Homo sapiens: one gene and its partners. The protein of the gene in region 2 purifies or fractionates together with the protein of the main gene of each other region. This does not show direct contact. Each region holds a gene or a part of one and is shown on either strand. Other genes may lie near its edges.

Evidence for each region.
Region 1: the proteins of CDV3 (region 2) and NUP50 fractionate together in Homo sapiens (co-fractionation; one large-scale study listed by BioGRID). This does not show direct contact.
Region 3: the proteins of CDV3 (region 2) and IDH3G fractionate together in Homo sapiens (co-fractionation; one large-scale study listed by BioGRID). This does not show direct contact.

The regions. Positions count from the first base shown.
Region 1 is NC_000022.11:45,170,334-45,173,984, reverse strand, and holds part of NUP50 (nuclear pore complex protein Nup50), read right to left. Parts: intron 2,998-3,651; exon of another isoform or gene 2,808-2,997; intron 2,386-2,807; coding exon 2,302-2,385; intron 1-2,301. UniProt on the Homo sapiens protein: Component of the nuclear pore complex that has a direct role in nuclear protein import. Actively displaces NLSs from importin-alpha, and facilitates disassembly of the importin-alpha:beta-cargo complex and importin recycling.
Region 2 is NC_000003.12:133,583,586-133,587,236, reverse strand, and holds part of CDV3 (protein CDV3 homolog), read right to left. Parts: intron 3,236-3,651; coding exon 3,087-3,235; intron 675-3,086; coding exon 515-674; intron 79-514; coding exon of another isoform or gene 63-78; exon of another isoform or gene 1-62.
Region 3 is NC_000023.11:153,785,180-153,788,384, reverse strand, and holds the end of IDH3G (isocitrate dehydrogenase [NAD] subunit gamma, mitochondrial isoform a precursor), read left to right. Parts: intron 1-249; coding exon 250-310; intron 311-429; coding exon 430-562; intron 563-787; coding exon 788-921; intron 922-1,231; coding exon 1,232-1,334; intron 1,335-1,437; coding exon 1,438-1,584; intron 1,585-1,935; coding exon 1,936-2,030; intron 2,031-2,112; coding exon 2,113-2,173; coding exon of another isoform or gene 2,174-2,236; exon of another isoform or gene 2,237-2,411; coding exon 2,412-2,513; 3' UTR 2,514-2,617; downstream 2,618-3,205. Other genes in the region: SRPK3 (SRSF protein kinase 3), read right to left, coding at 2,865-3,049. UniProt on the Homo sapiens protein: Regulatory subunit which plays a role in the allosteric regulation of the enzyme catalyzing the decarboxylation of isocitrate (ICT) into alpha-ketoglutarate.

The DNA of each region.
Region 1 (3,651 bases), on a different chromosome or scaffold from region 2:
TCCACTATTTAGGAAAAGCCGCATTTCAGCATTCTGGTGGGTGACATGACATTTAATTGTCCTAATATATGAAAACTTCAGGCTAAGAGTTACAGCTAAAATTATCTGTGGATTTCTATTATCCACCTACACTTAATTTCCCTTAGTTGCCCAAGGGCTCCTGCCCTCTCCTTCCCTCATCCCTTCAGCTTAAGTTGTAGATTATGGTCTGTACTATTTCTACCTCTTGAACTTCCTTCGGTTGCACAGGTGACTGCCCCTCCTTCAGAATGGCTTCCCTTGGCTTCTGCAGTGAGCTTTGTTTCTCACTCCTCGTAGGACCCTCCACCTGCATGCCTCCTGTCGCCCATTCCCATGGCCTCAATCCCCCACATGACGAAAGCTGCCGGAGCTGTGCCCATCCTTGCCATAATTCCTGTTGTATACCTAGTGGTCTTCCAGGGCACTCCACTTGAGTGTACCAAGGCCTTTCAAATACAGCATTTCCAAGACCAACCATTTCCTCCTTAATTAAACTGTCCCTCCCCCCATGTATCTTCCCAGTGAAAGAGCCATCAAATATCACTCAGCTCAACACCTACGTCTACCACCTAGTCACCAGTCAAGGCAATTCATAAAATCAAACCAGACAAAAAAAAAAAAAAAACACCTGAAGTTCAAGAGGTTTACTGTACAACAGGCAGGTAGAAATGTATTATGCATCTGAAAATAAGACCATGTTGTACACCATAAGTATATAATTTTTGTCAAATAAGAAATACAATTTTTAAGCAAAATATAATTAATTAATTACAAAACACAAGACCTAATCTCTAGCTTGGATCTGAGATATGCTTCCTCTGTACCTACTTCCTTTCTTGGCAGTGCAACCCGTTAACCTGAATTCTACATGAAAGAGCTTTTACAACGTCAGGAAATGAAGCTCCTCTCATGCATCTGAAGCATGCAATGGAGCAGAGAAAGAGCACACACTTATGACATTAGCCATGGCATCCTAAAGACGTTCAAGACTACCCAGAACCACCTGAGAATCGATTTCATGTAGGATTACGTATCTCTGCCTCGAATTACACTATATTGGTATATACAGTAATATATTTTAGGAAAATTGCGAATACTTTATTTTTATAATTTGAATTGTTTTCCCATTAACACATACCACCATTTATGAGACGCTCTGAGTGACTGGCTGTTGTAAACGTCTTACTGACTGCCTCCCCACCACTGCCACCTACCTGGCTCCCTTCCTTACGTTTTCAAACTTTAATACATTTTATGATCAAAACTTTGGCAATGTAATGAATATTTTTGTAATAACAATTTCTTTTCATTGCTTCTCAAAGTGTGAATGATACACCTTTCCTATCCTTTTTTTTTGGAAATAAAAGGGAAATAAGCTTGCATGTCCCTTAAGGAGAACGCTCAGGAAAGTAAGTATTTCCGCTCCCAGGAAGTCTGCATTATGCTTACTGGCACGGCACCTCTAACCTGACCATTTGAGATCCTCCAATGACTATTTCCTTGGAGCATCACGTTGGTGCTCAAAAAGCTTCAGATCTTGGAGCATTTTGGATTTCCAGATTAGAGACACCCAAGAATATAGTCTATTCTTGATGTTTTAAACACTGCAAAACGTGAGGTAGGGTAGGTTTATTTCAAAGCTGCCACCCAGGATATTCAAAGCGGCATCTCCTGCCTAACACCAGATGTCCAGGCCACCAAGACCACACTCTCCTGGGTCTAGAATGTATCTGAAGGGAGAGGATGTACTGGGGACGAGTTCTTAGATGCGGAGTGACTGCTTAATAATCAGCACATTATTTCAATTTAGGAGTTACAACTCATCTTCCATCCTTCTTAGCACAGGAATGAATCATTTTAATATACTATACTAGCAAAAAATCCACACCTAAAATGCCTCTAGTATAGTGAAAGGGCTCCCCCTACCAAGGCCTCAATCGCAGGGAGCAGACAAGACTCTCAGAAGATCCTTGCGTTTTCCTTTCTTCCTCCAATCTGATGCCACTTCGCCCACCTCTGTATTGCTTTGCTCATTTTTCTTCTCCAGATTGTCACTCAACTTGAATTTGTCTATATTTATCTTATTTCCTCAACTGGATAAGCTCTCTTTAAGGTCCAGACCTGACGTTTCTTATTTTTTTCTATCTCCCATGACCTACATCAAAGAATAAGTATTTTAAGAAAGCATTTGTTGATATCATTGCTCCCAGCGGAGGGATTGCTGTGCAACCCAGAAATCAAATGAGTATTTAATAGCAAGAGCTGTAAGGGGGCACTCACTTCAAATCCAACATTTCTGCGCTTTGCTTTCTTTATGGCTCTATTCTTCAAGACTTCCTCACTGGCCATGGAGAATGTTCCCACCTGCAATACAATACAAATTAAGCAGCAGTAAGATAAAGCCAAACAGATGACAAAATCCTCAACAACAACAACAAGCTAGAACTGAGCCACTGTGTCCGGCCTCTCAAAAATAAATTTTGGCCAGGCACAATGGCTTGCGCCTATAATACTAGCGCTTTGGGAGGCCAAAGGTCAGGAGTTTGAGACCAGTCTGGCCAACATGGTGAAACTCTGTCGCTACTAAAAATGAAAAATTAGCTGGGCATGGTGGTGGGCACCTGTAATCCCAGCCACCTGGGAGGCTGAGGCAGGAGAATCACTTGAACCCTCCGGGAGGTGGAGGTTGCAGTGAGCCGAGATAGCACCACTGCACTCCAGCCTGGGCAACAGAGCAAGACTGTCTCAAAAAAATAAATAAATAAATTTTGTTATTTATAACATACACATGATTTTTAAGATGAGTCCTGCCCAACTTGCCCACTGTACGAAAGGCCACGGAGGCACCTAGGACCTTGCTGGACAACCACTGCTCTTCCACAGTGCGCTCAAAGCACACTCATGTCCACACTTCTGATGTCCACGTCAGAAAGCTGCTGAATATCTTCGGCTTTAGTTTATAGCCCTTCTTTTACCCTGTAGGGTCGGAATAAAATATTTCTCATGCAAAAATTCTCACCTATAGTTGTTTCAGATCATATTAAACTTAACGGGCTCCTACACTCATAGAGGGGACCATCTGGCTGCACTTGCCCCAAGTTAAATGTACTTAACTAAATGTAATCTTTCCACACATTTCATTGGCATATGTTCGAATGGGAGTTCTTTCATTCCTGAATATTTTAATGTCTAAGCAAATAGTTACATGGTAATCTAGATGTTACTATAGCCCAGAATGTAACTGTGCTTAAGATCTTAAACCAACAACAACAAAAAACCAAAAACCCCCATAACCAAAGATTTTAGTTAAAAAGCACCAAATCAGTTTTGACCCTGTCAAAACACTCACATCCTTGGGATTCTGGTTTCCCTAAACATATGTGAGGAGATACACTTGTAGAGAAAAAAAGTACTAGTACCAGAAAGATTCCAAAAGAAGGAAGATGGCCGTCTAAGAATAAGCTTGGAAACAGTTGCAGTTTTAACATTTTTCTTTTTTCACTTAGCACTATGCTGTTAACCTGAAAGTCGTGGTTACAGATTTCCTTAGTCATCTGGCCTGGGGGTAACACACTGCTGATAAGGTACGACTGTAGAGTCCAGCCCTACTGGGCTTTGCGGGTGTTCTCC
Region 2 (3,651 bases):
ATTCATGTCCCTAAAGTAAGATGTAGATGTGCCATATGTAGTCATTTAATTCCAGGTAGCATTCATTTTAAGTACCTGCTGAAATAAGATTATTTTAATATTAGATTTATAAATGCCAACATCTTCTGTCTATAGTCACATTAACTGGGAATACAATTAAACAGCGCTTTTATATTTCTAGTTTCCATATTATAAGGAGCAAAAGCCACTTAATTATAAAAGAATTTTAACTACATTAAAACTTGTCATTGCTATAAAACAACATAAACCAGGGCTAAGATAAACTTTTGCAGACAGAAGACAAAGTGTCTCCAATGCTCTTTGCCCTCCCCCTTTCCTCCCTTCTGGACATATGAAGTCCCACCCTGATTCTCACCTGCCTGTCAGCTGAAGCTCAGGCTTTATTAGTTAAGGAGTAGTCTCTCCCTTGGGTGGGTATGCACATCCCCTATATCCCACTCCCTGGCCTAGGAACAGAAGTCCCAAACAAAATGCAATTAATTATAGTACTTACTTCCGGCTTTCTACATGCTTGGCAGTTGACTGCAGGGATGGGAACTGTGTATCACTGTAGATTTCTGGTGGTCCTTGTGGTGTTTTCCTTGTTGTGGTTAACCTGGCCCCAGGAGGCCTATACACACCACTAGTCATCGCTGGTTCTGGGGTTTCTGTAACTAATATTTTATAACAATTTTTAGATAAACTATTTAAATGCTCAGCATTTTAATAAGCTATTCTTGCATTCCCAATCATTTAACAATTATAGAAAAAACAATACCAGGGTCTCTGGGTCAGACCACAGAAGGGAATTCATTTCAGAAAATGTCTGAAAGTGAAAACAGGCTGGGCGTGGTGGCTCACGCCTGTAATCCCAGCACTTTGGGAGGCCGAGGTGGGTGGATCACCTGGGGTCAGGAGTTCAAGACCAGCTGGGCCAACATGATGAAACCCTGTCTCTACTAAAAATACAAAACTTAGCTGGGCATGATGGCAGGCACCTGTAATCCCAGCTACTCAGGGGGCTGAGGCAGGAGAATGGCTTGAACCTAGGAGGCAGAGGTTGCAGTGAGCCGATATTGAGCCACTGCACTCCAGCCTGGGCAACAGAAGGAGACTCCGGCTCTCAAAAAAGAAAAAAGAAAAGTGAAAACATTGTATTTTTCTAGGGTAGTATTCTAACTCCTCCTCCACGTACAACTTTAGTAATCTACGTAAATGATGAGTTCCACAAGCCAAATTACTGGAAGTAGAAAAGGAATCTGCTGGGCTTGGATGACTGGTCTCATCAGGGACTGCCTCTCAGAATAGGACTTTAGTCCTGTTTCCCTACCAGTAAATATGAATTACTTCTTTACCTGATTGGTGGACTGATTAAGATGCCATATGTAAAGAATTTTTTAATGAAATGCCAGTGTGGTTATTTTTTAAGATTCTAGCCAGGGCTGGGTGCAGTGGCTCAAGCCTGTAATCCTAGCACTTCGGGAAGCCCGAGGCAGGCAGATCACCTGAGGTCAGCAGTTCAAAACCAGCCTGGCCAAAATGGTGAAACCCCGTCTCTACTAAAAATACAAAGATGTAGCGGGGCATGGTGGTGCACGCCTGTAATCCCAGCTACTTGGGAGGCTGAGGCAGGAGAATAGCTTGAACCCGGGAGGCGGAGGTTGCAGTGACCCAAGATTGTGCCACTGCACTCCAGCCTGGGCAAGAGAGTGAGACTTTGTCTTAAAAAAAAAAAAGAAAAAGAAAAAAAGATTCTAGCCAGGCACAATGGCTCACGCCTGTAATCCCAGCACTTTGGGAGGCCGAGGCGGGCAGATCACTTGAAGTCAGGAGCCAGACTCTGTCTCAAACAAAACAAACAAAACAAAAAGATTCTAAAGATGATTTAAAAACATAAGACCGGGTGTGGTGACTCACACCTGCAATCCCAGCACTTTGGGAAGCTAAGGTGGGAGGATTGCTTGAACCCAGGAGTTGAAGACTAGCCTGGGCAACATAGTTAAGATCTCATCTCTACAATAAAATAAACAGGTGGCATGCCCCGGTAGTCTACTTGGAAGGCTGGGGTGGGAGGATCACTTGAGCCCAAGCAGTTGAGGGGCTGCAATGAGCCATGATTGCATGACTGCTCTCCAGCCTGGGCCAGAGTGAAACCCTGTCTCTAAAAAATATAAAAATAAAAATTTAACATAGAGTAGTTATCTGTGATTTCTGCATAACAAGATTTGGAGTGATATGTTATTCTTTATAACATTCTAAATAAAATAATGAGTATACACTTCTTTAAAGTAGTGCTCTTAAACTTTCATTATTGCCCTAAGGAGACCTTTCAGACATCTGTTTCCTAACTGCCCCCCACTCCATGAAATTTTAATACTGCGATATACTATACATCTGTTTATGCATTCTAGTCTTTTCGTGGGCCACAAATGACTGTTAAGGTATAAGATTCCTTCATTCCATAAGAAGCAACTTTTACCACCTTGAGAATGATAAAATTGGCCCTGCTGAGAATTCATGCTTCAAAGAACAGGAAAGTTAAATAGGGAATGAAAAAGACAAAGCACAAGTGAAAGACAAGGGCCCCTTGTCTTTCTGTCTTTACTCAGCTGTCAAAAATATTTTAAATGATAAAAGCTTTAGGAATTTTCTCTCTCATGAAAACTTTTGGAGTTAAACCCAACCCTAGGGTAGTTACCACTAAAAATCCTAAATGAAGCTGACCTTGGATTCTAGTAAATTAAAGTCTTTTCCTTACCTTTTCCTCCATTAGCAAGTAGTTAATATTTAACGAGAATATTAGAAGAAATGCTCAATTCCAATAAATGAAACTGGAATCGACTAGTCTATATCTATATAAATTTTACAGCAACATACAGGACAAAAGCATGTCTTTTAACTTCCAGATTCCTTTTATTTAGGATTTTAAAGTCTTTAACAAGATATATACACATCCCACTCTACCAGGAATGGAAAGGAGCCTCTCCTCCTCACCCTACCACAATCATGCACTTAGTTGAAAGTGGACCATATATAAAATCATATATAAATTAGACATCTTTCTGAAACTGAAATAGTAAAATTACCAATTACTGGAGCAGGAGGTGCTTGTACTGGAGCTGTTTTATTCCAGGGACCTGAAGATTTTTCCATACCTCCACCACCACCTCCACCTTCTTCCCAGTTATCACCTGGATCTTGTCTCTTTTCATTATCGTCTTCTTCCTTTTCACTGCTGGAAAAGCAAAGATGTAAATTCATTAAGGAATCACCAAGAAAATTTTCAGTCCAAATCGTTAGTTTTATCCATGATTATCTGTACGACCCTGAAGAAGTCAATCTCTTTCGAGACTGAACGTCTTATTTAAAAAGTGAGGCCAGGTACAGTGGCTCACACCTGTAATCCCAGGACTTTGGGAGGCCAAGATGGGTGCACCACCTGAGGTCAGGTGTTCAAGACCAGGCTGGGCAACATGGCGAAACCCATCTGTACTAAAAATACAAAAATGAGCCAGGCATGGGGGCACACACCTACAATGCCAGCTACTGGGGAAGCTGAGGCAGGAGAATCCCTTGAACCCGGAAGGCAGAGGCTGCAGTGAGCTGAGATCGTGCCACTGCACTCCCTCCTGGGCGACAGAGCGTGACTGT
Region 3 (3,205 bases), on a different chromosome or scaffold from region 2:
TTATTCATTTATTGACTTGTTCATTCCGTCGTTCAGGGGTTATTCATGGAGCACCTGCTGCACCAGGTGCCCTTCGAGATCCCTGAGCGTGTAGCCTCGTGGGGCTTAGGCTGGAAGTTGCATTCTAGCATTCTAGTGTTCAGGAAACATTTTTGCTCCCCAAGTCTTCTGACCCCGGCAGCCTTCAGCTGCCCTGCTGAGGTGGGGCGGGGATGGGCAGTGCCACTAAGCCTGTGTTGTGTTTTGTAGGCAACATCGAAACCAACCATAACCTGCCACCGTCGCACAAATCTCGAAACAACATCCTTCGGTGAGATCCGGGTGTGCGGGCTGGGGGCTTGGTGGGGCTAAGGTGGGGTGAGCCAGTGGAGTCTGGCTCCAGTCAGCCACCTGTCAGGCCTAGCAGCCTCTTTCTCCGTCCCCTCCCAGCACCAGCCTGGACCTCTATGCCAACGTCATCCACTGTAAGAGCCTTCCAGGCGTGGTGACCCGGCACAAGGACATAGACATCCTCATTGTCCGGGAGAACACAGAGGGCGAGTACAGCAGCCTGGAGCATGAGGTGTGCATGGGGGGCCCGAGATGAGCCCCCCCAGCGTCAAGATTAAGGGGAGAGCTTAAGGAACCAGGGACAGGTGTACCCTTAGAGGGCAGGGGCTGTGCCCGAGGGAGAAGCCAGAAATAGGCAGACAGGGTTGCTTCCCACGGTGGCCCGGTCGCGCCAGCTTGTTTGGCCAGTGCTGCTCTTCAGTAGCACATGGGTCTCTTCTCCCCATGCCCTCCTCAGAGTGTGGCGGGAGTGGTGGAGAGCCTGAAGATCATCACCAAGGCCAAGTCCCTGCGCATTGCCGAGTATGCCTTCAAGCTGGCGCAGGAGAGCGGGCGCAAGAAAGTGACGGCCGTGCACAAGGCCAACATCATGTATGTCCCCTGACCTCTCTGCGAGCAGTCCAGAAGCAGCTGCAGTGGCCTGCTTGGGCCTGCTCTGAGGGATTTGTGGTCCAAAAGCCCAGCTACCCACCGAGGTGCCACCCTAGGCGAGTGCCCTGTTGCCCTCGAGGCCTTGCCAGAACCCACACTTAGGGGAGGTGGGGTGGGATTCTGTCCATTTTGCTGGTGAGGGACAGGTTAGAATTCAGACCCCAGCCTCCTGGGGCCCTCTGCACGCCCCGTCCCTCTGGCTGACTGTTGCGATGGCCAAGCTGGTGTCCTATTCCTAACCCCCCACCAGGAAACTGGGCGATGGGCTTTTCCTCCAGTGCTGCAGGGAGGTGGCAGCCCGCTACCCTCAGATCACCTTCGAGAACATGATTGTGGATAACACCACCATGCAGGTATTAGCCTGCCCAGTGCTGTCCCCCTGCCCTGAGTGCCCTGGGCTTCTCTCACCCATGCTTCCGAATCTGCTCCTCAGCCAGCCCCCTCCTTGTCCCGCAGCTGGTGTCCCGGCCCCAGCAGTTTGATGTCATGGTGATGCCCAATCTCTATGGCAACATCGTCAACAATGTCTGCGCGGGACTGGTCGGGGGCCCAGGCCTTGTGGCTGGGGCCAACTATGGCCATGTGTACGCGGTGTTTGAAACAGTGAGTGCCGGTGGCAGTGCCGCGGCTTGCCGCCTTTCTCCTGTTCACAGACTTAGTGAGGCACACTCATCCCATCCGGTTAGCCCGTTCAAAATGCATGATTTAGTAGTTTTTTGGATATCCAGGGTTGTACTGCCGTCACCACCAGGTCATTCCAGAACATTTTCACCACCCCACGAGGAAAGCCTGTCCCCATAAGCTATCTGTCCCCACACCTTCCCCCAACCCCTGGCACCCGCTGGTGGGCTTTTGTCCCTGTGGAGTGGCTTCTTCTGGACGTGTCACAGGAGCAGAGTCACTGCCCGGCATCCTTCTGCCCTCCACCCACTCTCCTTCGTCTTGCCTCCCCAGGCTACGAGGAACACCGGCAAGAGTATCGCCAATAAGAACATCGCCAACCCCACGGCCACCCTGCTGGCCAGCTGCATGATGCTGGACCACCTCAAGTGAGTGGCTCCCAGTGCCCCGCAAGCCCCTGGCCAGCCCTCCGGGCCCCAGGGACTGAAGGCTGGCTGTCCCATCCTCTAGGCTGCACTCCTATGCCACCTCCATCCGTAAGGCTGTCCTGGCATCCATGGACAATGAGAATGTGAGGTTCCCCTCGCACCCTACCCTGCTGCCCCGCCCAGTCTCCCCCTGCAGCCTCCTGTAGCCCGCCTCATGCACTGACCACAGCCCCCAGGGGAGGATGGTACTGGATCTGGCCCCATCTTCTGGCCCTTAGCTGGTGCCACTTCCCTCCTGTGGCAATCCCAGTCCTGCACGTCACAGGAGACAGCGGGGGGTGGCAGGGCCTGGTGTGTGCCGAGCCTGCCTGTGTCCTACAGATGCACACTCCGGACATCGGGGGCCAGGGCACAACATCTGAAGCCATCCAGGACGTCATCCGCCACATCCGCGTCATCAACGGCCGGGCCGTGGAGGCCTAGGCTGGCCCTAGGACCTTCTTGGTTTGCTCCTTGGATTCCCCTTCCCACTCCAGCACCCCAGCCAGCCTGGTACGCAGATCCCAGAATAAAGCACCTTCTCCCTAGACTTGGCGTGGGCCTCCCTCACTCCAGGCACCGATGTTCAGTCCACACTTTATTAAGAAAGGAATACACACACTTTCTCCGAGAGCCCTCACGGGGGTCTCAGGCAGAACACGCTCTGAGAGCCGGGCCTGGCTCCAGCGTCTCTCTGCCCTGTGGTTGTGGAGAACTGGCGCCCAGCAGGGTGGTGGGAGCTGTCCCGCTTTTCCCTTAAGGCACGGAGAGCTGGAGGTGGAGCCACAGCCGGGCCTAGGGGTTGAGCCAGGGGTGCTGGAGGCAGTCAGCGGCACTGGCCCGCTTTTCGGGGATGTACTCCATCATGGGCAGCAGAAAGGCGCTGAACTGTGTGGCCTGCTCTAGGGGCCACTCGTACTTTTCCATGAGTACCTCGTACAGGCCCCAGTGCTTGAGATTGTGGATGTGCCGCAGCTCTCCTGCGGGCAGGCCAGCGGGCGTCAGGCTCTGTCCCTGTCTCTGGACCTGCCTTCTGCTTAGGCCCTGGCTCCTGGGACCCAGTGTTCCCTCTGTTGCAGAATCCAAGGTCCCCGTCCCACCCTCCCTGCAGCCACATGGCCTGAGGCTGCCCGGGC